Linked DNA regions of Homo sapiens. The protein of the gene in region 1 purifies or fractionates together with the protein of each later gene. This does not show direct contact. Each region holds a gene or a part of one and is shown on either strand. Other genes may lie near its edges.

Evidence for each region.
Region 2: the proteins of NUDT21 (region 1) and CRTAP purify together in Homo sapiens (affinity purification with mass spectrometry; one large-scale study listed by BioGRID and IntAct). This does not show direct contact.

What each region holds. Positions count from the first base shown.
Region 1 is NC_000016.10:56,428,633-56,431,482, forward strand, and holds the end of NUDT21 (cleavage and polyadenylation specificity factor subunit 5), read right to left. Parts: 3' UTR 501-2,850; downstream 1-500. UniProt on the Homo sapiens protein: Component of the cleavage factor Im (CFIm) complex that functions as an activator of the pre-mRNA 3'-end cleavage and polyadenylation processing required for the maturation of pre-mRNA into functional mRNAs.
Region 2 is NC_000003.12:33,123,809-33,127,544, forward strand, and holds part of CRTAP (cartilage-associated protein isoform 1 precursor), read left to right. Parts: intron 1-599; coding exon 600-771; intron 772-3,736. UniProt on the Homo sapiens protein: Necessary for efficient 3-hydroxylation of fibrillar collagen prolyl residues.

The DNA of each region.
Region 1 (2,850 bases):
ATATATTCCCGTATTTTGGGTAAACTTTCTATTTAAGATAACATTGAATTACACAGTATTACATATGCAGCAGGTATGGTGTGTGTCATAGAACATTATGAATTCCAGGCAAGTTTGAGAAAAAAAACTAAAGGAGTCAACCCTCCCTTTACAGATGAGGAAACTCGGACTCAGTCCCCAATGATATGGACTACACACAGTTAACACAACTGTGTAGCAACTTCTAACTTGTGGCCTTCATGTTCCAAATCTAGTGACCCTTTCACACCTCAGGAAACTGAAACACTGCTAACACACAATGGGAGGAGGGAGTGTGTGGGGCACAAGGAGAGGGCAACATCAGTGACCCAGGCCATCAGGCCCTTGCTATTATGCTAAGCTGTCTCTTACCTAAAGGCCCTCGGCCACTCACAGTGACGAACCATGCAAGATTTCTACTAGCACAGTAGGATCAGCAGCCACACATACAGGACTACTATCCCAAAACAATCACAGAGTCATTCTCTTTCAAATATTTTTTATTGAAATGACAATAAAATAAAAAAAGAACAGTGATCACTTTAACCAAACTTACTTTACAAATATAAAAATATAACCAAAACTTGTTTCTTTTATACATTTGCCATAAACGTAATACCAGAAAAGTTCTCAAAACCAAACTATAAATGATGCTTGAATACTATGATGTGAACACAATAACCAAAAGTTTAAATTTCTAAATACATGACCTTTCCCTCAACAGAACAGCATAATCAATATATCTTCCCAACTTATCTCTATTTTTACGATATGATCCATTACTAAGATACAAAATACACCTGAACTGGCCTAATCTAGAGTTACCTAGGTTTTAGTAAGTTTTTTTCCACAAAAACAAGCTTAATAACTATAATACAAGCTAATATTAAAATGTGTTTTATGGCTCAAATCAAATTACAGTATTAGGTTTCTCATCACGATTTGAACAAAAGCAAACTGCTTGAAATGAGTCCAGTTTAACCCAAATAATCAGTGATGTATAACAAGTGAAGTAAGTATGGGAAAATCAAATCTTATGCTACAGAAAGCTGACTTATACTACAGTCAACAACCACTAAGCCTTCTTTGGCAATGAAACATACAAAATTGCAAACTCTGATGCAGTCTCAGTGATTGGCATATACTGTTCCAAACACTATGAACTAGTAAAAACATTAAGTTTGAGGATGGAAAAGCTACCCCAAGCATTTCATCTCAAGTGACTGAACAAGTACTGTAAAAATAAAGTCATTAAAAAGCCGAGAACATAAGAGCACAACATTTAAGAAAGGGAATTTTAAGCCGATTGCTTGCTGGCCTGTTGAATTTGAAGTACTTCTACCTCTCACTTCTAATTAAACATGGAAGAAAACAGACTGGCTAATTTGGTCACACTTTGTCCAAATACAGTGTTAACTTAATGGAACCCTTAAATATCCAAAATAATAAGTGAATGCTATTTATAAGACAATAAAAAGTTTTAAAATCTTCCAAATGTGCTGTTAACAGTACAAATTCAAGTGCAGAATTATTACGCCATTTTAAGTATTATCTACTTTTTTAAAAAATCACAGTGGTCTTCATCACATGGCGAAAAAACAAACTTCACTCTTCTCCAAAGGGATAAGTCCATCCTAAATGTAACTACAAACAATTGTATAAACCTTTATAGTTTTTCCCCCTAATCTACTAAACATATTCCAGTGTCATTTAGTAGTTTTACATAGAATCTGCACTATACTTGGATACTCAGGGAAAATAAGATGACATATATTGTAGTTTTAGAACGCAAAAGAGCTTTCATTTTAGACAAATATACAACATAGAAGCCACTAAAAAATATGGGTCTATTAATCAAGAGCCCATTTCAAAATGATAAGAGCATTTAGTATGTAGATCTGGAATGCACAGTTTCTGGAAGTATTAGAACTTAGTGTTAAACAGTGCCCTTATACCCTCTTCTAATACTGTAGACACCTACCAACCAGATTTGATTTCCCCTAATTCTATTATTTCCATCAGAAAACCAAAAACAGATTATTGGGGATCCACCTGTAACTGACCAGAGCAAAAAGTTTTTAAGACTTCCGTTTGTGTGTTGCAACTTTTACATTCAAAACCAGATCTCTTACATTTCAAGGTTAGTAACCCAGCCATCCTGAATCAAAGGTTTTTCTCAACTAGGCCTTAGTGTATGGATGACTGGCTCACGTACTTACTGTATATTGGGAAGAAGTGAAGAAGTGAGAAGTGAAGAATTTCTTGGTCAAAGTTTAAGTTACAAAGAACATGAGTGGCCTCGAATCAGATGACTCTTCAACTCAAACACTCCTTACTGAGAGTACTTTATAAAACACACAACAAAAGTCTACCTCTCTCCACCCTCCACAAATTGCAAAAGTGAACATCTGAAATGTGGCCACTGTAGCTTTTCCCTCAAAAGCAATCATGGAAGGTGAGCTGAATCAATCCATCTTCATATCCACTTCCTCCAATCTAAAGGAATAGCTGAAGGACGCAGCTAATGGATGAGCTTACCAGCAAAATACATTACATGAGAAATATGCTAATGTAGGCTAGAGGGGTAGGACTGTTAGGGGCAGGAGGGAAAAGGACAATTCACAGAACTAGTGGCTTTTTCAAAGGAAACTGGGGCATTTTTGATCATGGAGACTGGTGCTCACCTACCATGAAGGACATGCACAGTTAGTCACTACTTAACCACCATGTGAGGGTTTGACATGACCCCAACTAAAAAAACTTGAGTGTTTATTAATTGCTCAGCTACACTTGGCCTGATTTCCTCAAGTATCATATACCTTTGACATCACC
Region 2 (3,736 bases), on another chromosome or scaffold:
TACAGATGGGGTTTCCCTATATTGGCCATGCTAGAGGTATTTCTTTATAGCAATGTGAGAACAGACTAATATACCTGCTCTCAAACTTACATTTTTCTTTTCGTTCCATTTTAAAAACCAGTTTTATTGAGGTACTATTTATATACAATATATTTATCAATTTTAAGTGTATAATGCAGTAAGTTTTGACAAATACATCCAGTCCTGTAACTGCCATCATAGTTACGACATAGAATATTTTCATCACCCCTGAACAATTTCCTCTTGTCCTTTTGTAGTCAAGTTTTTGCTGTAACCCCTGACTTCTGGCAGCCACTGATCTGATCTCTGTCATAGTTTTCCCATTTTCCTTAATTCAGATTATTATCAAGGGCCTGCTACTTTTTGAATTGAACTAAATAAGAAATGTACCCATCATAAGCAAAGTAGAAAAATCTAGATATAAAGTAACTCACTGATTGACTTCTTCAAGGGCCAGTGTGGCTTCTTCAGAGCTAATGAGAGCTAGCTTGGTGGTGGTCTTGGTTCCCTTTGAGATTTCATGACTGTCTCCCTTCACGCCCAAGAGCGAGCTTCACTGGCTTCTCCATGCCTTTCAGAGCCTGTTCATCCGAGCAGTGCGGGCATACAACGGTGAGAACTGGAGAACATCCATCACAGACATGGAGCTGGCCCTTCCCGACTTCTTCAAAGCCTTTTACGAGTGTCTCGCAGCCTGCGAGGGTTCCAGGGAGATCAAGGACTTCAAGGATTTCTACCTTTCCATAGCAGGTTGGTGGTAGGTCAATAGGCTCACTACTCCCATGGAATAGTCTTCCTTAGATGTCTGGTTTCTGCCTGCATGCCTGCTAGATGCCTGGAGCAGCCTCTGAGGAATTTTTGAGCATACTTATTAACGGGTAACTGAGGGTAGTCACCACCTGCATAGATAAACCTTTGACTTGGCAGGGGCTTCTAGTGAAATCACTGAGAGAAGGTTCAAGCACAGGCCTGCCAAGGTAGAATTCTGTGTCTGCCCTACTTGCTTACAGATTTCCTACAGTCATTTTGAAAAATAAAAATGGGCCCAGGAGCACCTCAGTGACTCACATTACTGAGATAACTTTGATGATGGCAATTTTCCAACACATATAAAGGTAGAATGAACCTTTAAGTGGCCATCACTAAGGTAGCTTTTTGAAATTTTCTTTTCTGATTATAAAACAATGTGTGCTCATTATAGGAAGTTTGGAAAACACAGAAAGGAAAAATGAAGAAAGGAAGAAAATGTAAAACTCTACACATAGGTAGCCCAGATTTCTCTATAGTGCCTAGACATTTCCCAAGTGCTTTACTGGGCAGCATCACTCCAGAAACTGGGAAATGGCTAAGGGAAGCTCTTTCCCAAAGTGGTTTGAGAACACTGATCCTAGAACTGTGCCTTCCTGAAAGCACTAGATAAGTAAAATCTGGACTGTACCTTGGATAAAGGTATCATGTCTATGTACTTGTAAATAAGTCTGGGAATGGGCTGAGCACTGACTGCATCTCCCACTTGAAGAATCATTGTGCACTTTAATGGTTAAAGGCCCTTAGAAATCCTGCAGTAGAGAAGCTCTTTTAAAGTTATTGAATCCAGCGTTTTCGGTTTTGTTTTTTTTTTTCAGTCACTTTTTATTCATTAATCTCTTTCTACAAAGTAGGTTTTTTTTTTTTTTTTTTTTTTTTGCCTTAAGAAAACTTCTTGTTATGGAAAATTTCAAACATACACAAAAAACAGAGAGAAGAGTAGATAAACCACCATGTACCCATGACCCAACTTCACAATTGTCAACTCATGGCTACTTGAGCTTCCTCTAATTCCCACCTACTTTTCCTCTCATGTTATTTTGAAGCGGATTCCAAATGCCATATTATTTCATTTGTAATATTTCAGTATATACCTTTAGAAGGTAAGGACTCTTTGTTTTTTAAACATAACACCAAACTATTACCCCTGTAAGAATTTTAACAATCATTCTTTGATCTCATCATTAAATACCTAAACAGTGTCCCAATCATTTCAGAAATGTCATAAATACATGTGTGTGCCTTTAATTTACCATTTGTTTGAATCAGGATCCAAATAAGGTCCATCCATTGCAATGGGTTATCTCTTGAAAATTTTTATTGTGGTAAAATATACGTTAATATGAACTTTATTATTTTAGCCATTGTTCAATGTACACTCCAGTGGCATTGACTACATTCACATGATTGTGCAACCATCAGCACCATCCATCTCTAGAACTTTTTATGTTTCCCCAAATTGAAACTCTGTATGCGATAACTCCCCATATCCCCTTCCCCCCAGCCACTGGCAACAACCTTTCTACTTTCTGTCTTTGTGAATTTGACTACTCTAGATACATCACGTAAGTGGAGTCATACAGTATTTGCCTTTTTGTGACTGACTCATTTCACTTGGCATAATGTCCTCGTTTCATCCATATTGTGGCAAGTTGGTTATCTTTTATGGCTCGTTTAATCCATAGGTTCTTCCGCCATATCTTTTCCCCTTTGCTATTGAAGAATCTGCATTTTTTGTCCCGTAGAGATTCCCATGGTCTGGGTTTTGCTGACTGTATCCCCATGTTCCTCTGTCTTCTGTATTTCTTGTAAATCGGTAATTGGATGTAGAGGCTTGAACAGGCTCGGTTTGATTTTGTTTTAGGGTTTTAAATTTTGGTGGGAGTCAACTGCTTCATAGTTGATGCTGAGTTCTTTCATCAGGAGGCACATAATGTCTGTGGTTTCTCTCCATCTATCTTTGATACAGCTAAGATATATATGTATTGTAAATCAAAGAGTATCTGAGACAAGTCTCAATCAATTTAGACAGTTTATTTTGCCAAGTTAAGGATGTACTTGTGACACAGACTCAGGAGGTCCTAACAACATATGCCCAAGGTACTCAGGGCACAGTTTGGTTTTATACATTTTAGGGAGACATGAGACATCAATCAATATATGTAAGATGTACATTGCTTCAGTCCAGAAAGGCAGGACAACCCAAAGTGGGAGGGGGTTTCCAGGTCATAGGTAGGTGAGAGACAAATGGTTGCATTCTTTTGAGTTTCTGATTAGCCTTTCACTGAATATGCAATTTGCAGGAATAGTCACTTATGCTTTAGTCTGGCTTAGTGAAACAACAGAGCAAAGGAAACAACCATATATACATTTGTTCCATGTGAGCAGAGGGATGACTGAGTTCTGCCTGTCCTTTGTCCACAAAAACTTCCTTGTGGGCAAATTATGAGAGAGATTTGTGGCTTTTTTTTTTTTTTTTTAAATTTTTGTAGCTATCTTATTTAGGAATAGGATGGGAAACACATTTGTCCTACATGGTTCCCAGCTTGACTTTTCCCTTTGGCTTAGTGATTTTGAGGTCCTGAGATTTATTTTCCTCTCACAGTATAGATATATAGATATTTAGAGTTTCTTTAGTTTTTATTTTTAAATAATTTCAAACTTGTAGAGAAGTCGGAAGAATCATACAAAGAACTCTCATGTACACCTTACCTAGATTCACCAATTTGTAACATTGATTGTGCCACATTTACTTTATTGCTCTCTCCATATGTGCTGTGGGTATAATTATTATTGTTATTATTTTATTTATTTATTTATTTATTTTTGACATGGAGTTTCCCTCTTGTTGCCCAGGCTGGAGTGCAACGGCGCGATCTCGGCTCACTGCAACCTCTGCCCCTTAGGT